4 linked regions of the Homo sapiens genome follow. The protein of the gene in region 1 interacts with the protein of each later gene in a biochemical or structural test. Each region holds a gene or a part of one and is shown in the gene's direction. Other genes may lie near its edges. The genes, in order: CDH2, PTPRC, PTPN12 and GNA13.

What was found.
Region 2: of the proteins of CDH2 (region 1) and PTPRC, one has a biochemical effect on the other in vitro, tested with the Homo sapiens proteins (one large-scale study listed by IntAct).
Region 3: of the proteins of CDH2 (region 1) and PTPN12, one has a biochemical effect on the other in vitro, tested with the Homo sapiens proteins (one large-scale study listed by IntAct).
Region 4: the proteins of CDH2 (region 1) and GNA13 form a complex in vitro, tested with the Homo sapiens proteins (one study listed by BioGRID).

What each region holds. Positions count from the first base shown.
Region 1 is NC_000018.10:27,987,588-27,992,312, reverse strand, and holds part of CDH2 (cadherin-2 isoform 1 preproprotein), read left to right. Parts: intron 1-1,962; coding exon 1,963-2,216; intron 2,217-3,646; coding exon 3,647-3,789; intron 3,790-4,725. UniProt on the Homo sapiens protein: Calcium-dependent cell adhesion protein; preferentially mediates homotypic cell-cell adhesion by dimerization with a CDH2 chain from another cell. Cadherins may thus contribute to the sorting of heterogeneous cell types.
Region 2 is NC_000001.11:198,714,996-198,719,720, forward strand, and holds part of PTPRC (receptor-type tyrosine-protein phosphatase C isoform 1 precursor), read left to right. Parts: intron 1-1,686; coding exon 1,687-1,845; intron 1,846-3,098; coding exon 3,099-3,307; intron 3,308-4,725. UniProt on the Homo sapiens protein: Protein tyrosine-protein phosphatase required for T-cell activation through the antigen receptor. Acts as a positive regulator of T-cell coactivation upon binding to DPP4.
Region 3 is NC_000007.14:77,599,443-77,604,167, forward strand, and holds part of PTPN12 (tyrosine-protein phosphatase non-receptor type 12), read left to right. Parts: intron 1-1,221; coding exon 1,222-1,364; intron 1,365-4,725. UniProt on the Homo sapiens protein: Dephosphorylates a range of proteins, and thereby regulates cellular signaling cascades. Dephosphorylates cellular tyrosine kinases, such as ERBB2 and PTK2B/PYK2, and thereby regulates signaling via ERBB2 and PTK2B/PYK2.
Region 4 is NC_000017.11:65,014,539-65,019,263, reverse strand, and holds part of GNA13 (guanine nucleotide-binding protein subunit alpha-13), read left to right. Parts: intron 1-960; coding exon 961-1,011; intron 1,012-4,434; coding exon 4,435-4,725. UniProt on the Homo sapiens protein: Guanine nucleotide-binding proteins (G proteins) are involved as modulators or transducers in various transmembrane signaling systems.

The sequences.
Region 1 (4,725 bases):
GCCTGAACAACATTAACTGTTAGTGTAGTTGATATATTCATGATATATCACATTCTGAAATTTTGATCACCATTGATAGCTATTAAGAATGATGCCTCACAGCTGCTATTTTCATGTCTACAGCTATTAGAATATTGGCAGATAGTGAACAAACCAGAAAAGCCATAGAAGAAAAATGTAATGAGTAGGCAAGAAGAAAGCCTGCATTTTAGAAAGCTCTTGCATTTGCATGGCTGTTTTTAAATGCTATTTCCGAGACGTTAAGAAATGTATTCTTCTGATCTTATGGTCAAAAAGGAACCAAACAAAACAGTTGCATGCTAGAAGCCAAGGGGATGTTCTTCAAGAATAATAAATGCGTAGCTATAATGGAAAAGCCTGTTAAAGTGAACATCCCTTCCTTTTAGCCACCCAGTAAAGAGATTTACTTCTTTGCCTCCCACTTAAGCACTCTTGATTTGTAAGTGAACCTAAATATTGACCTTACATAGAAAGATGTGCTAAAGTGCCAGTTGCCAATAATTATGCAGATGCGGGAGTAGAATAGAATGGGAATGGAAACTCTCAGAAGGAACATAGTGATCAAAAGCACCAACTTGAGTCTGCTGTCTGTGTTAGAGTCCCAGCTCTGCTCCTGATATCTGTGTGATCATGGCCAACTATTTAACCACTGTAAATTCTAGGTTTCTTATGCAGAAAGGGGCTGATAACAGTATGTTAGTCATAGTGTTCTGAGAGATAAATGAGCTTCATACACATTAAAGGACTTTGAACTGTGCATATACCCCTTAGCATAAATGTTACATCAGGGGAAGGTTTCGTGTGGCTAGTGAAATCACTCTAAATATTGCAGTCTTAACTTTCTGGCTTTTTTTCTGTCTTGCTTAAAATACTAGAGAAAGGAATGTTGAATTGGGGATTTAGAGAGAAAAAAAGATGTGTTTGAAGATTTTTAAAAGGTGGTCTAGGGTACGAAACTGGTGCAGTTTCTGCTGATAATGAAGCTTTCTTATGAGCGTCACCTCTCGATCATTCTTAGGCTACCAATTATGAGCCTAAGAGATCTTAATGCTCTTGTTTTTCCTGTTATTACTGCACAGTAATGCTTATTTGCACATCCATTCGCAGGTGAACAAGGAAAATTAAGAGTGAATGTCCAGTCTAGTCATTTGACTCCTGGTAATATTTCTAGTGACAGCAAGATTCAGTGAACTTTGGAAGTTAGTATTTACATGAAGGGTTATTTGTGCATTGCATTTATCTAGAGTGTTTTTCTTAAATTTGGGGGTTTTACAGACCAATAAAATATCCAGAAATATTCCAGAAGACAGCAGAGTTTTAGTTTGCTAAGAGGAAAAGAAAAATATCTTCCACCTACCAACAGTATTATTTTTAAAAGGTGTGTGTGCGATTATGTATACATGTTTGTACTGCAAAATGTGTACTTCAAATTATGAAAGGTACTTTTAAATCAAATAAGTTTAGCTGTATTTAAAAATTACATTTTCTGATTTTTGGTTTGTTTTCTTCAATTCATCATAGACTGGTGAAAGCTTTCCTGGGTGAGGAGTGATCTTTGTACTAATGTTTGAGAGTATACATTTAGACCATCATGTTCTCACTTGACTTTATATTATTTAGTATTTTTAGTCAACAATGCTATTCTTAAGAATAATCAAGTTTTTAGATGTACCTAAATAAATAAATCTGTGCAGTAATCATGTGCACTGTTTTGTGAACATAAATCTTTTAAGTACTCAAGATTTATAATTAGGTTAAATTGGGATAAATATTTTGATAAGTGACCATGCTAATGCATGTTTTCCAGAAACTTGAGAGGAACCTTGTTATGTAGTGAATGAAGAAATTAATTTTTTGGAAATGGAGTTGATAGAGGAATAAACTACAGAATGCAAGCATTCTTATTTCCTGCAAAAATATGGCTTCCCTTTTATTTTCCAGCCAATCGACTTTGAAACAAATAGGATGTTTGTCCTTACTGTTGCTGCAGAAAATCAAGTGCCATTAGCCAAGGGAATTCAGCACCCCCCTCAGTCAACTGCAACCGTGTCTGTTACAGTTATTGACGTAAATGAAAACCCTTATTTTGCCCCCAATCCTAAGATCATTCGCCAAGAAGAAGGGCTTCATGCCGGTACCATGTTGACAACATTCACTGCTCAGGACCCAGATCGATATATGCAGCAAAATATTAGGTATGAAATGCTGTTTGTAGTGTTTTTGTAGCTTACTTATGTTCTATGCTGTGCATAAAATTTATCTAATTCACTATTTGAGTAGAAATTTTCATTGCAATCAAAACTACTTATTAAAAGATAATTTAAAATTCTTTGAATTTTCTTCTCAGTAAGTCAATGACTATATTAGATATAAATAGATATCTGTATCCATATTAAAATGGATTTACTATTTGAAGAAAAAGCTGTTCTTGTTTCTCTGTATCTGCCATTTTTACTTAAAAAATACTTTAAAATTATTTAGCCTGTGCCTTTATGCCAAACATCACAAAAAGGTTCCGCAGGGAACTTTCAGAGGCTTATAACATTTATCTCTCCTCCATGCATCATGAAGGAAAGAAAGCTTATGCCAAAACCAGGATCTAAGAGTTAATTATTTTCATTCCTTACCTGTACAGTAGTTATTGGACTTATGAAACCTATCTGTAAAGATTTCCAAACTCAGCAAAATGTAATTTATCCTTTCTGATGAGGGAGTGGATGGTTGCCAGAGCACACCCCATGCGACTGTTCTCCAAAGCTGGTGATGATCATTTTTAAAATGAACTTATATTTCATTAAACTTCTTACAGAACTGCTGCTAAAAGATAACTTTCTATTGTTATCTTTTATTAAATGTTAAATGTTCTCCATTTCTCTATTCACTGAAATCAAGATAACTATTAATAAATAGCCAGTTAATAGATGTATTGAAATCCTACAACTTGTACCTTTCCAAACATAGCATACCTTTTCCAATCCAACTGGTTATCTAATCTTTAAAAGTTAATCCCCACTCCAAATTTTAAAAAGGAATTTAAGCTGATAAATCTGCCAATTCAGACTCAAGACTGTAGGACTTTCTTTGCAAAGGTATAGATCTGAGGCTTGGCCCAGTGTGAAAGATTCAAGTAGGAATGGGATTATGGTGGTCTCTCCAGTGTGGCTTCATGTTGGCCATGATAAAGTGTTAAAATGTTTTAGGAGTGTTCTGTGATGCAGTATTCAATTTCTATTATAATTTCTCTTAACTCCTGTACATTGAGACTACTGCTTATCTAGAAACTATATTCAAGCTATTTTACCTGAACCATTGATATCTGTTGAAGTGGACAAGAACCTAAAATGATAACTTTCCAATCTGCTTTAGCCCACATTAGGGAGACTGTGCACCTAGTCTTGTCCCTCAGACACCTGTAGAATGTTTCCTACATGCCTGACCAAACACAACCTTTATGTGCCTCCCAATACCACTGTCACAAAAATACTTTTTCCTGTTAAAGCTGTATGTCCAGCCATCATCTACAGAAATGCAAGTTAATGAGCCAGTTGCATTTGGAACTAAACCTGTAAAATATGTTTTTTTAAAGTTTCATAAAAAGAAATTAAACTTCACTTTCATTTTGTAGATACACTAAATTATCTGATCCTGCCAATTGGCTAAAAATAGATCCTGTGAATGGACAAATAACTACAATTGCTGTTTTGGACCGAGAATCACCAAATGTGAAAAACAATATATATAATGCTACTTTCCTTGCTTCTGACAATGGTATGTTCGCTGTTTTTTCTTGTATGTTGATGAAAGACAGTAGATCCTCATCATGCATGCTCAGGAATTAAAGTTTTCTACAAAACTCAATTGCCTGGAAAACTGACTTTTATAATTCCGAGGTCCAGCTTTTATTTATCATTTCAGACAGGTGTTCTGGAACATCCTTCACTGTCTTTGCAATGACTGTTCTCGATGTCCATCCATCGTTCATGTAGACATACCTTTGTTATCTTATTGTCCTGTCACATGTTGATGCCTTAAGTCCATCCTCAGTGGCCCTAGACACTGGGTTTTTTCAGTGGCTCTTTTTATATGTCTTCTAGTCACTCTGTTGCCTTTCATATGTGCATCTCTATCAGTCTTCCTTTTTATAATTCTCTGCCTCTGTCTGCCATGGGCTAGGAAACTTAATTTTGTGCATAAATTGAGATAAGTGAGTAGTGAGCTTCAGGGTATGGGTTTTAGAATACATATGTAGCACCTTTTTTTCCTTTCTGAGTCTCTGCTGGTTTCTCATTGGTTAAGATTAATAGATAAGGACTTTTTTCAGATATGTAATATAAAGGGGACTTTTGTAAACCTGATGAGGGGCTTATTTTGCTTCGTTAGCTCTCAGTACGATGTGTGTTTCAGACTTCAAGCTCTGGAGTTCTACAGGACCCCCAGGTGCAGACTCCGGCTTTCCCACTTTGAATCTGTGGGATTGCCATGAGGTTTTAAATATATCTGTTTCCTTTTTTTGTTAAATAGATACGTATCAGCACCTAACTCAGTGTTTTAACTAAAATGTAATGACTTCTACATATATATGAAGCATTTGAAACAGTGGCTGACACGAACTAACCACTCAACTAAGTATTCCTATTGCGTATTAATAGTTTCAAAACTGAACCACAACTATATTTTAAAATATTTTCAGTATTAAACTATGAA
Region 2 (4,725 bases), on another chromosome or scaffold:
ATTTTAATAACTCAGTGGAGATGTGCATACATATCTTCATAGTTCATATGATGAAACTGAGGTTAACAGAAAATGTGATAGATGTTCAAGTTCAGTAGCTTGATCTGTTTCCTTTCTGCTCTTGGTTTTGTTTGTTTGTTTGTTTGAGAGGGAGTCTCCCTCTGTCGCCCAGGCTGGAGTGCAGTCATGCGATCTCGGCTCACTGCAAGCTCCGCCTCCCAGGTTCACGCCATTCTCCCGCCTCAGCCTCCCTAGTAGCTGGGACTACAGGCGCCCGCCACCACGCCCGGCTAATTTTTTTGTATTTTTAGTAGAGACGGGGTTTCACTGTGTTAGCCAGGATAGTCTGGATCTCCTGATCTCGTGTGATCCGATCCGCCCGCCTCGGCCTCCCAAAGTGTGTTTGTTTATTTTTCCTCACATTTTTAGCTTAAGATATTTTGGAGAACTGCAGTTTTATCTCGTTAACTTAATGATGGCAAGTGACAGTGAAGCTTCTTGGTAATTGGGGAATTGGGGAAGAGATCTTTTGTGCTTTATTGGATTTAAAGGATTATTTTTCAAAAGTTACTGAAAGCAATAGGCACCTTTCAAGACCACCATGATGTTGCTGGAAATTATTTTGTGTAATGCCTTTTATTTTTTTAAGAAAAAAAAAACAGAACAAATTGCTTAATCTCTCTGTGGCTCAGTTTTGTCATCTGTAAAATCAGATGATAGTGAGTACCAACTAATAGTTGCAGTGATGGTTAAATTAATTATTTCATGTATACCCCTTGAAACAGTGCTTGGCACATACAGTGAGTTATTATTTTTAAAAATCGTTATTGATATTATTATTACTGTTGCTGCTATCCAGAAACATGTTGCCACTCTAATCATCCTCTTTCCTGATGTCACTTGGCTACTCAAAAATAGCAGCAGCTGGTGATTTTTTTACTTAACAAGTGCTAAGTCTTCTGCCTGAGTGTGAAAACACACTTAGACACTGTCCTACCTCTCATATGCCTCCCCAGCCAGAGCTGTTGTCCTGATCAGGTTTGTCACTAAACTCAAAAACATTCCTTCTTCCGTTTGTAATATTTTCTTTTCTCCCTTACATGTATTCAGTTCCACTTACCTTTCAATGAACAGCTGAATTCCACTTCCGGCATGAAACTCCCTCATTCTCACAGCTCCCGTTAATTACTGTAGTGTCCAAATTACTATGATAGAATCAACCCAATGACTGATGATCAAATGGATTCTGCATCTAACATTCAAAACAGTAGCTAATACCGATGTTCAAAGTTTGGAGGTTACATATCAGAAAAGGTTTTCTAAAAAAGAATCATTCTGAAACATGCAACTCAAGACTTACAGTATACACTGGGGGCTGTGTTTTCTCAGAAACAAAAGAGATCGTCTTCACAAATGAATCTGAACTTATTAAATATTTTATGTACCAAATTAATGATATAAAACCATAATTTTTCAATATTTAATTTTACCAATGATAATTGAGTTTGTTCAATACACTGGCTGATAATTGTAGGTACTTTTGAGTATCAAGGATGTACTTATTTTTCAATCACTCAATAGTTTGGAGTTCACTTGGAACAATGTGATGTAGAGACCAAATTAATTAGGTACGTGGTAGTACTGACTTTTAACGACTTACTAATTTTTTTTCACATTTTTCCTCAGAAAAAGATTGCCTCAATCTGGATAAAAACCTGATCAAATATGATTTGCAAAATTTAAAACCTTATACGAAATATGTTTTATCATTACATGCCTACATCATTGCAAAAGTGCAACGTAATGGAAGTGCTGCAATGTGTCATTTCACAACTAAAAGTGCTCGTAAGTTATATGTTTTAATGCTTCTTTCCATAAATGGTAAAAAGCAAGGTATGAACTTTTTAGCCTACAATATTTCTATCTTTATTCTAGCAAGCACATTTACCTGGCACATTTGTTAACATCTAGGGCTTATAAACACGTAAAATCTAAAAGTTTAAAAACCGTTATCCTGGATTCTCTCTCTTCTTCAGATATAGTCATAGAATTTTAAGGACAAAGCATAAAAGCATCTTAATTGGCATCAGTTTGTGCAATTTCATGCAGTTAAGTACTTAACCAACTTAGATTAAAACATTCACTGTTTGCTGTTGTCTTTACTATCTGGAAATATTAATTGTAATCAGAAACCTAACAATGTCTCATAAAGCATTAGCCTACTAACCTCTGTTCATCTGATAAAACATTTCATAAAATGTAATATTTTATTAGCATTTTCTTCTCTTCGTTACCCTCAACTACTTACTATTCTATTTTATGTCACATTATCCATTTAAGGTTTCCTTTCAATGGCATTTGGCTCTTGCCACTAGTATAATCTCTCCATAGTTTCCAGGCCCAAAGTTAGATCTGCTTCTGGGGCACATGTTAACCTCCATCGAGGACAGGGAAGAAGAAATGCCGTGTTTTAAGGCAGCATCTATAGCTCCAGAGACCCTAACGGGCACTAGACTTGTGAAGAAATATTGTGCTATTTGGGGCTGAATATAAGACACTTTTAAGGTCATTTAGGTTTTGGTTTGAAAAGTTCTGGTCCTGGAGCTCTATGCTTTTGTTGTTTTCCTGAGTTTCTGTATCACAGAAAAAGAAGACAATTTGTTTCTGTTCCTGAAGAACCCATCTAGGTGTTTACCAGGATAACATTAGCACTCCGGGAAAGAAGGGTCTAGATTGTGTAATAGGACTTGGAGGTTTCCCAATCAACAACATTTTTCCTCTCCTCTCCCCAAACTTCCCCCTCTTCCCCACTCCCTTCCCTTTTTCTCTATTCTCTAATTCTACACAGTCTCCTTCAGGGATTGCAATAACTCTCATGGCTTCATGTACAACCTATATGCTAATACTTACTGAATAAATGAGTGATTTATTCTTCAGGGTTTTGATATTGTTTTTTAATTTATGTACTATCATAACTTCCTTATTTATAACCCCCAAGCTAACACTTAAAATACTTTATACTATATCCAAGTATTGTCAAGTAATTTACATATGCATCTATTAAATTATTAATAACAAATCTTTCTTCATTTTGATAGCTCCAAGCCAGGTCTGGAACATGACTGTCTCCATGACATCAGATAATAGTATGCATGTCAAGTGTAGGCCTCCCAGGGACCGTAATGGCCCCCATGAACGTTACCATTTGGAAGTTGAAGCTGGAAATACTCTGGTTAGAAATGAGTCGCATAAGAATTGCGATTTCCGTGTAAAAGATCTTCAATATTCAACAGACTACACTTTTAAGGTAAAAGTATGCTCTCTACATTACTATAGTACCAACTACATTATAATGATTGATTCATAGTACTTAAATAACTTTAAGACCACTGCTCACATGAGATTGAGAAGCTCTGATGTGTAATGGAATCACACTTAAAGAGTCTCAAATATTTGACTCTAAAATTTTTATTCCTATAGCTCAAGTCAGTGGTTTAAAGCAAATGTTTCATTGGAATATTTTAGAACTTCAATATGACTTAATTATAGCTAAATTATTGCTTCTGTGTTAAGAAGCACAACACTTTATGCACAACAGATTATTACTTTACCAAATCTACCTTTTCTTTACTTTGGCTTTTTATCTTTATTAATGTGGAATTTTTCAATTGCAAAATTTCACAGGTACCTTGAGGTTAGGAAATATTTGAAATAAACACTAGACAATACTAGTGAGCATACAGAATTTAAAACACTCATTATCTCACTGTCTACTGATCGTATTTTGTACATGTAACTTCATAATATACACATTTATATGCACTTAACACGTATTATCAACATTCTGAGTACACAGTTTTCAAAATACAGTTTTAAAACTGTATTTTTAATATATCACTATATCACACACACCTTTCTATGTTAAATATTTAACTACTATGTAGTTTTTAATGCCTGTATAATATTCTATGTATGGCTTTATCACATTCTATTAACTATAACTATGTTGGTCTCTAATATAAACAACATTCCGATAACACACTTATTGGTAAAGCAAAATTTTTGAATGTCTTTAATAATTTATGTTTCATAAATTCCTAAAAATGCATTTATTGGGTCAAAATGTATTTTGAGGCTTTTTGGATATGTAACTTTTTTTTTCTATAAAATTTACCAAATTGCCCTGGTGTATCAGTGTATGAAATGACTGCTTCTTGAGAGGCTCACCAACACTGAATACGCCTTTCTTTTTCTTTATTTGGTGGTTGAAATATGGTATTGATATCTTTCTTTTAATGAAGTTTCTTTACTTATTGTTCTTTGTGTTATTCTTTGCCTCTTTTATCCAGTTTTCTCCGGAGAAATGCCTTGAATATTAATGATATTAAACTCTTTGTCACATGCGTAAAAATGTTATCAGTTTATAATTTGCCTTTTAGTTTTCTTCACAGCACTTTGTCTTACATAATTCCCCTTTTTATTTTTAAACAAATGTATCTGTCACTTTTATTCCTGTTAAATAGAAATTTCCATAGTTAATTTTTTAATATGATGTTGACAAACGGCCTCATATTCTTTTTTTGTTTTGTTTTGTTTTGTTTTGTTTGTTTGTTTTGTTGTTGTTTTTTGTTTTGAGAGGGAGTCCTGCTCTGTCACCCAGGCTGGAGTGTGGTGGCGTGATCTCGGCTCACTGCAACCTCCGCCTCCCGGGTTCAAATGATTCTC
Region 3 (4,725 bases), on another chromosome or scaffold:
CCAAACCCAGCTAAATTTTTTATAGTTTATAGAGATGAAGTCTTGCCATGTTGCTCAGGCTGCTGTCAAATTCCTGGCCTTGAGTGATCTTGCCTTTTGCATTGGCCACCCAAAGTGTTGGGATTACAGATGTGAGCCACTGAATCTGGACTGGTTGCTAATTTTTTAATCTACGGTAATAATAATAAGTACCTTAATGAATTTCTGTGGTAGATCAGGCATCTTAATTCTGCTAACTGCATCATATCCAGATACTGTTACGTCTGTTGCACATAGATGAAGATACAGAAGCTTTAAGAAGTTAAATAGCTTACCTGAAGTTATTTAGGAAATGGCCAAAGTAGGAATTTGAGTATGGTTTGCTTAGATTCCGAGTATTGCTCTTTCTGTTAAACACCTGCAATAACCATTCTCAAAACATTTGACATCAGTACTCCTTTACATTCTTCAAAGTTATTGAGGATCCCAAAGTTTTTGTTTCTGGGGGTTGTATCTTTCAGTATATACTATATTTGAAATTAAAACTGAGAAATTTTTAAAAAACATGAATACATAAGCATATATTGTATTGGCTGTTAAAGAATAAGGCACGTAACATTTTAGTATTATTCTGAGAATTATTTAAAGCTCATAGACTCCCTCAAAAGGGTTGAGGGGAGGGGGTACCCAGACCGTATATTGAGAACCACTAATCTGTAAGAAGACTAGTGAGTTTGGCATTGGACAAATTCATCTCTCCATTCTTTTTCAGTTTAATGTTCTGTTAGTCTTCTGATTACAATGAATACTACTCTAACCTACTCTAACATGGTGCTTACGGTATATTGCTCATCCATTTAATAGTGTAGATTAGTTAAATAGTATATATAGTGTTATGTTTACAGTACATGCTCTGGAAGTAGAACTGCCTGGTTTAGAGCCCACACTTGTCACTTCTTAGGAAAGTTTGGGCAAGTTATTTTATCTGTATATCTCAGTTATAAAATGAGGATGGTATTAACAGTACTTTCCTCATGGAAATTAAATTGTTACATGTGAAGCCCTTAGGTATTTGGCATGTGTTTAACAGTCAATAAGTGTTGGCTATTATTTATTTGGGTTTTTTTAAAAGCAGTGCTAAATGCCACACAAATTTCTTAGAAATGGCAGTTTAAATGAGCTGTGCAACTTTAAACTTTGCAAAGTATTTTCATAATTGTTGACTTTCTGTTTTTCTTGAAGGAATCTCGTAGGCTGTATCAGTTTCATTATGTGAACTGGCCAGACCATGATGTTCCTTCATCATTTGATTCTATTCTGGACATGATAAGCTTAATGAGGAAATATCAAGAACATGAAGATGTTCCTATTTGTATTCATTGCAGGTACAAAAGAATTTCCCAAGTTTATAAATACATTATTTAAGTTTGATGTTACACAAGGTTTTATTTCTGCATTAATATGTTAGTAATCTTGAATTTCTCCTAGCCTTGATACAATGTTTGGGACTAGGGCCTTGTAAGTTGATGTGGTCTCATTTGGTTGACAGACCGTTTAGAGTATTGTTGCATTAAAACACAGGATCATCTATTTGAAAATAGTATTCACATGGTGGGAAGCTATAGAACATACTCTTTTTACTGTTCACTGATTAGAGCATATAATCTCAGATCCTCATCATACTCTACTTTCTAAAGTCAGTATGGTAGTATTTTCTTTTAATCAATTTCCCTGAAACAATGACCAAGCAATTTTCATTCCTGATAAACACTGACATGAGATTTTTAAAAACAGGATATTGCTCTGATGCCCAGGTTGGAGTGCAGTGGCACAATCATAGCTTACTGTAAACTCAAACTCCTGGCCTGACGTGATCCTTCTGCCTCAGCTTCCCAAGTAGCTAGGACTACAGGCATGTGCTACCACACTGAACTAATTTTTTTTAATTAAAAAAAATTTTTTTTAAGAGACCAAGTCTTGCTCTGTTGCCCAGGCTGATCCGAACTCCTGTCCTCAAGTGATTCTCCCACTTTGCTCTCCCAGAGTCTTGGGCTTACAGGCGTGAGCCACTACGCCTGGCAACATGACTTTCTTTTTTTAATATATGTAAGATGTACATACGTAGGTCTTATTGATCTAAGATATCATCAATTCTAAGACACACCATTATTATATATATTAACAGTAAAAAAATCACTGCCAATTATAAGGGGACAATGTCATTTGTAAGAAGCCATTGGTGGTAAGATACATACCAATCTCAGAGCTGTTACATTGAGATGAAAAAGTGTGTTTTAGTTTGATGAAAAACTAAATGCTGTTTTTATTCTTGGGGAACATCAGTTTCCACGTTTGCACCACTTCCTGTCATATCATGAAATTTTATAATTTATAGCTACTGAAAAATTTAAAGCCGGAAGCAAGCATTCTTGTAGTAAAGTAATAAAAACTATTGATACACATTTACTAGACATTTTTATTATGTTTTATAGTAGATTACTTCATTATAAGGATTACATAAAATTCAATGATTACTGACCTAGTTAAGCTACCTCTGAATGTGAAAGGACAAGTATAGGTGCACCTACTTTAAATTGCACAATATAAATCTTTTCATTTATTCAAATAATATTTGAAGTTCAGTTAGGTTTTGCAAAATTACTCGTTTGGATGTGTTAAGAAATCATGTAAACTCTTCCTTTGACTTTGGGGGAATGAACATGAGATTTGTTTATTCTTGGGGGGCAGTTAATTTTGTATTCTAGAAGGGGGGTTAATGTATAATATATTTTAGCTAAGAGAAATCAGTTTAAGATAACCAACTTTTCTTAATCTAACATTTTGGCTTATTTCTGTCATCTGGTCATTCTCATACAAATAATACAAAGCTAAATATACATAATACATATGCACATATATGTATATGTATACATTATATGTAATACATAAAACAAAGCTAAATTTGTATTATGGATTTAGGAGTGTAATGGAAAATACCCCTTTAAGAGGAAAAGCACAAAACTGAATTAGTCAAGAAAATAATAAATGTTTGCAATAAGTGTCATGACCGGGTATAGTGGCTCAGTGCTTTGGGAGGCCGAGGCAGGATGATTGCTTGAGCCCAGAACTTTGAGGCTGCAGTAGACACCAATTACACTACTGCACTCCAGCCTGGGTGACATAGTAGACCCTATCTTTTAAAAAAAAAAAAAGAATATAGGTATCATTATAATATGGGTGATACAGGATATTTTGAAACCTAATTTTTGGAATTTCATTATATAGGTATGGGTTTCTACATAGTAGAAGCTACTTGAATCCTTAGACAGTTTTTCTACTCTGAATTTTTAGTTTACATTAGATTCTTCTAAAGGCCTTACAGTCATAGTACTTACTTCATAAGACTGCTATCAATTTATTCCTCTAAGGGACTTGTTATCTGCATTCACATTTGTTATAAAAAGTAAATGAGATTTTTCAAACTTAAGAGATTTATTTTTTATTATTTACATAGTTAAAATATTTTTTCAGTGGAGTTGAAGCATTGAAGATAGTTTTCTTATTCACTTGGTTTGACCGTAATGCTCATAATTAACGAAGTAAAAGGGCTACTTTTTATTCATGGGCCAGGAAAGTAACTTGCTGGTGGAGATGTGGGAATCAGTTAACAACTTGGTTCATTAAAACTATTTTTTTCTGTGGTTAATTCAGTGGTTAGTTGACCATTTAATTAAGTAGGATTGACCAGTTAAAAATAAACAATATGTTTAATTATAGAATTAAAAGATAAAGAAATTGCTTTCACTTTGACTTCTTATAAGTTAGTTAAAATAATTTCCTGTTCAATCATAAATCCATTTGTATAGGAAGGCTTTTCATCAAAAACTAAATTGACCGTTAAATATTTTTAGACAATCAAAACAGTACGTTAACTGTAAGGACTTAGAAAACACATCCATAAAAGCAAGAAAATTCTTTTGCTTTCCACTAGTTCCACTGGAGATAACCATTGTTAAAACTCGAGAATGTGTCCTTTCAGTGTGTGTATGTGTACATACAGTATTGTTTTGTTTTATTTTGTTTGACGGAGTTTTGCTCTTGTTGCCCAGGCTGGAGTGCAGTGGCACAATCTCGGCTCACTGCAACCTCCGCCTCAACTATTTTAAACAGCAGTTTAAATGCTTAGTGGCCACTCTGTTTTTTTGTTTTTAATTTACTTTAATGGCCATCTTATTGTTAAATCTTTGAGCACATCTGCAGTTATTAGGACAAAGTTATTATTGGATAAATATCCAGAAGTGAGATTTGTTGGTCAAGGACATAAACTTTTAAAGTATTTTAATGAGTATTTTTTAATGTGTTATCCAGAAAATTGATGCTACTTAATTCTGCCACTGGCAGTATGTGAGAGTACCTATTTCCCTATACCTTCCCCAATACTGTGTGTTATCTTTTTGTTTGCTTTTTTTTTTTTTTTTTTTTTTTGAGACAGAGTCTTGCACTGTCGCCCGGGCTGGAGTGCAATGGCACGATCTCAGCTCACTGCAACCTCTGCCTCCTGGGTTCATGCGATTCTCCTGCCTCAGCCTCCCGAGTACTGGGATTACAGGCACACACCACTACACCCAGCTAATTTTGGGTATTTTTTAGTAGAGACGGGGTTTCACTATGTTGGCCAGACTGGTCTTGAACTCCTGACCTCATGATCTGCCCGCCTCCACCTCCCAAAGTGCTGGGATTACAGGT
Region 4 (4,725 bases), on another chromosome or scaffold:
TTATAGAACTGCTACTTTCAAGCTTTGTGACTCAAAGTGTGGTCCCAGGCACTCCTTGAATTGCAGAAACTGGGGTCCCACCCAGACCTACTAAACCGGAGCCTGCAGTGTGAGGAGATCTTCACATGATGCCCAGGCATACTAAATGAGGTGCTGCTTCAGGAACACTTGGAAGTAGCTTCAGGCAGGGACAATGCTGCAGCTGTAGAATCCCGCGGGAAAGTGAAACGCAGGGGGTGAGGACTAGGAGACTCGGACACAGACCCCTTCTTTCCCAAAATAGTTCCCCTCTTCTCTGTGTGCTCTGGTCAAGCGTTTTCATGTTAGGAATGTATTCTCGTACAGTTTAGATGTTTGAAATTGCTTGGAAGTTTCGTCGAGAAAACTGGGCTCAGAAAGGATAGGCCACTCGGGAAAAGACCTGTTGGAGATGTGAAGCTGGCAGCACTATCCAGGGCCTTCCTGAGCAAGGCACGCCTGTCCATGCCTGTGGTTGGGGGATTTTGTACAGTATTCTTACCTCATCTCTGGTTTGGTTTGTCTCTGAAGATAACTATCGTCACTATTAAGCTAGAAAATGTAGACAAAAAGACTGTCACTTAAATTTTATATGTAGATTTATGTTTTATCTCAAAAGCAGTTTTCATCTTCTAATTATATGTCTTCACTGTGGATACGTAGTTATAGCAAAAAGCATGCGTGTAATCCTGTCCAAGCAGATGATCACTTGGGATATTGATTCTATTAAGCATTTGTGAAATCAGCCTGCCTTTGCAGATTTAGCAGTCTGTGACAGAGCAGACGTTTTATATGTTTTTAGGAAGGTTAGCTGTCTGAAATTGGTGACTAAACAAAGTCTGTTTGGGTTAAGTGTACAACCAGACAGTATGATGTAAACTGTTGTAACAAGATCTTCCATTTCTAAGCCCTAATAACTATTTGTTTTCTTCTTGTTTTTAGGGTGAATCTGTAAAATATTTCCTGGATAACTTGGATAAACTTGGAGAACCAGTAAGTGTTTAAACCAAATGTTTATGTTTAGTGCCATTTGAAAGCAGAAGTCAGGATATCGATGTTAGGAAATTTAGAAAAATTATGTATTAAGCTATTTGCTTCTTTCTCTCTTTTTTTTTTTTTTTTTTTTTTTTTTTTTTTTTTTTTTTTTTTTTTTAGTGGTGGCGTTCTGATTCTTCTCTGCTTTATTTAGAGTGATTGGTAGCTCAGAATATTGAATGATTTTTATTTTTTCAAAATGAAAGTATTTTTATTGTTTAATCACGACACTTCTTTTTTCTCCCTCTAACTGTCCAGGTCTCTACCATTTTCTTGAGGAATGCTTTGTCTGCTATTTCTTGGAAGTAAAACTGTTTAGAGAAAGAAGTTTGTGTTTGAAGATGATATTGTGCATTATCTGTTATACTTTAGTATCTTTAGAGGTTTTTGTTTGTAAACAGAAATAGAACACAGTGGGTTGACTGATTTCCAAATCTTTTGACAAATGACATTTTCGAATTCATGCCCCCTTTGTGTCGAGTCACGGAGTAGGAGGGCTAGATTTAAAAGGCTGAAGAGACTCCACGAGGTAGGGGGAGTCGCCCTTGAAAAGAGAGTCTATCATTTTCCTGTAGGTATTCCTCGGAGCCAGCAGCTCTAAGCTGGCGCTGTGGCCAGCGGGGCCCACTGCAGGCAGAGCATCTCGCTTGTTTGACCTCTGTATTGGGCGTACACAGAAGAGTTCAGTGGGAGAAAGGTTTCTGCTGCTTAGGAAAATTTTGAAAGCCATTGCCTTAGAGTCATCTGTTACTCTCTAAATGTAGCACAGCTTCATTTGCCTCCTCATAAGGCAGGTTTCTTCTTCTTCACACAGCTAGTATGTGTGTGTCCTCATCAACATACTCTGCTCTGCCAGACTATTTAGCACTCGATTGCATGAAGTTCTGTGCTTCATGTGAAGCAGCCTTTAGATTGCTAACTAGATTATTAGCTTTAATAGAGACAAAGACAATAATAGAGAACTTTTTATTTTTATGGAATTACATTTTTTAAAAGCTCAGGGCCCGGCGTGTTTCTGAAGGAGCTGGCATAGGTGTATGTTGTAAATTGGTATTGCCTTCTAGAAAGCAGTCGGGTGTTAAGTATCCAGAGTCATTAAAATGTTTGTAACCTTTAACGTCATAATCGTACCCCTGATTATTTTAATCTTAGGAAATAGTCCAAAGGAAAAAAAAAATGTGCATGAGAATTTTAATTGCAGTATTTCTGTTAATTATGGCTAAAAATTGGAAACAACCTTAATGACCACTAGTAGGGGAATGTTAATGTAAAGTACAGCACGTTAATGCATTTGGTGTATTTTCTTGTCTTTTAAAATGAGGTATGATTGTATCAGCATATGGAACAGTTCACAAAATATTAAGCAAAAATGCAGAGGTAGGCTGAACGCTGTGTGCATATGCTGATTATAAATAAAGCAGGCGTGTATCTGAACAAAGCTAGAAGAAAACATGGAAAAGCTAACACTTGAGTCCTAGAGTTATTTAATGAATGGCTGTTGGTTGCCAGTAACTAAGAACCCACCTACTTTTAAAAAACTCTGAATTCTGGCCGGGTGCAGTGGCTCACGCCTATAATCCGAGCACATTGGGAGGCTGAGGCGGGAGGATCACTTGAGGTCAGGAGTTCGAGACCAGCCTGGCCAAAATGGTGAAACCCCGTCTTTACTAGAAATACAAAGAAGTAGCCGGCCGTGGTGGTGCACACCTGTAATCCCAGCTATTCGGGAGGCTGAGGAGCAGAATCGCTTGAACCTGGGAGGCGCAGGTTGCAGTGAGCCGAGATTCCGCCACTGCACTCCAATCTGGGCAACAGAGCAAGACTCCATCTCAAAAAAATATGTATATATATATATTCTTAATTCCATTGCACCATTTTGAGACAATGAGTATTCTTGTAATGAAATTTCAAAATCATATGACACTATTCAGAAAGGCATAAAGTGCAGCATTGTGAATAACAGCATTGTTTTAAATCCTGCCTTGATTTTTAAAATATTTTGACCTTGATGATAAATATTAGCTGTCCCGTTCATGTATTACCAGAAAGTTGTGTTGTAGTTTTGGAAAAATGCTAGACTGACAAGGAAGAACCAGTTACATTGCATAAGGAAGTGTGCCATCACAGAGTAGCCAGAGACTTGTGTGACCAGCAGCTTCTGTTTGTTCAGGGTCTTAGAGTTCACTGACCAAGAGTGCAGAGAAGAGCTCATTTGATCCTTGCAACAACCCTCCCTCCCAGGTATATAGACCAAGTGTGATCACCTCCATTTCACAGACAGAGGTGCTGACACTCAGAGTAAGTGACTAGTTTGAGTTCTTGGGTCAATAAGTAAGAAATTAATTATAGTAGAGAAAGGATTTTTCACACATGTAATATAGCAGCAATGAAAACATAGAAGTTTTAAGTCATGAGTGGGGTTGCACAGTAAAAGAACTTTTAGAATAGGTTAGAGAGAGGTGGGCAGAACTTGGAACTGGGAAGTGATCCTTGTGAATTGGCACTGGAATCAGATCCCATTGCCTTTTTTTTTTTTTTTTTTTTTTTTAAGACAAAGTCTTGCTCTGTCACCCAGGCTGGAGTGCAGTGGCATGATCTCAGCTCACTGCAAGCTCCACCTCCTGGGTTCACACCACTCTCCTGCCTCAGCCTCCCAAGTAGCTGGGACTACAGGCGCCCGCCACCACACCTGGCTAATTTTTTTGTATTTTTAGTAGAGATGGGGTTTCACTGTGTTAGCCAGGATGGTCTCAATCTCCTGACCTCGTGATCTGCCCGTCTCGGCCTCCCAAAGTGCTGGAATTACAAGCGTGAGCCATCGCGCCCAGCCCCCATTGCTTTTAATAGAGGAGCAAGGAGCAGTGTGGAGAAGGTAGATACGCAGACAGGAAGATCACTCTGGCTAGAACCAAGAGTGGCTGATAGTGGGGAGTAAGATTGCAGGTGGATATATAGCAGTGAGGGTGGGTAAGAACAATTGATAAGACTTCAGCTTAAATTTTGAGTAGTATTGCAGGGATGAAAACAAGTAGATTCTGGCCATTTGTAGTAAATTTTGAACCCGTCCTGCTAACATTTTAATGTATCTTGGCTTTTGTTGTGGGGAGCACAAGTGGGTCTTGCTATATTGCCCAGGATATTCTCAAACTCCTGGCTTCGCAAGCGATCCTCCTGCCTCAGCCTCCCAAAGTGCTGGGATTATAGGCATGACCCACCATGTCTGACCAGTCTTGGCATTTTATAATAAGCATAATCTATCTGAAAATGTCACTTAAAAGATCATTTTGTTTGCATATCTATTCACTAGTCCAGTTAGTAGTCCATTAAAAATTCGCATTACTTCGGGATTAATAGGTATAAAACAAGTTTTTTCTTTTCCAGGATTATATTCCATCACAACAAGATATTCTGCTTGCCAGAAGACCCACCAAAGGCATCCATGAATACGACTTTGAAATAAAAAATGTTCCTTTCAAAATGGTTGATGTAGGTGGTCAGAGATCAGAAAGGAAACGTTGGTTTGAATGTTTCGACAGTGTGACATCAATACTTTTCCTTGTTTCCTCAAGTGAATTTGACCAGGTGCTTATGGAAGATCGACTGACCAATCGCCTTACAGAGTCTCTGAACATTTTTGAAACAATCGTCAATAACCGGGTTTTCAGCAATGTC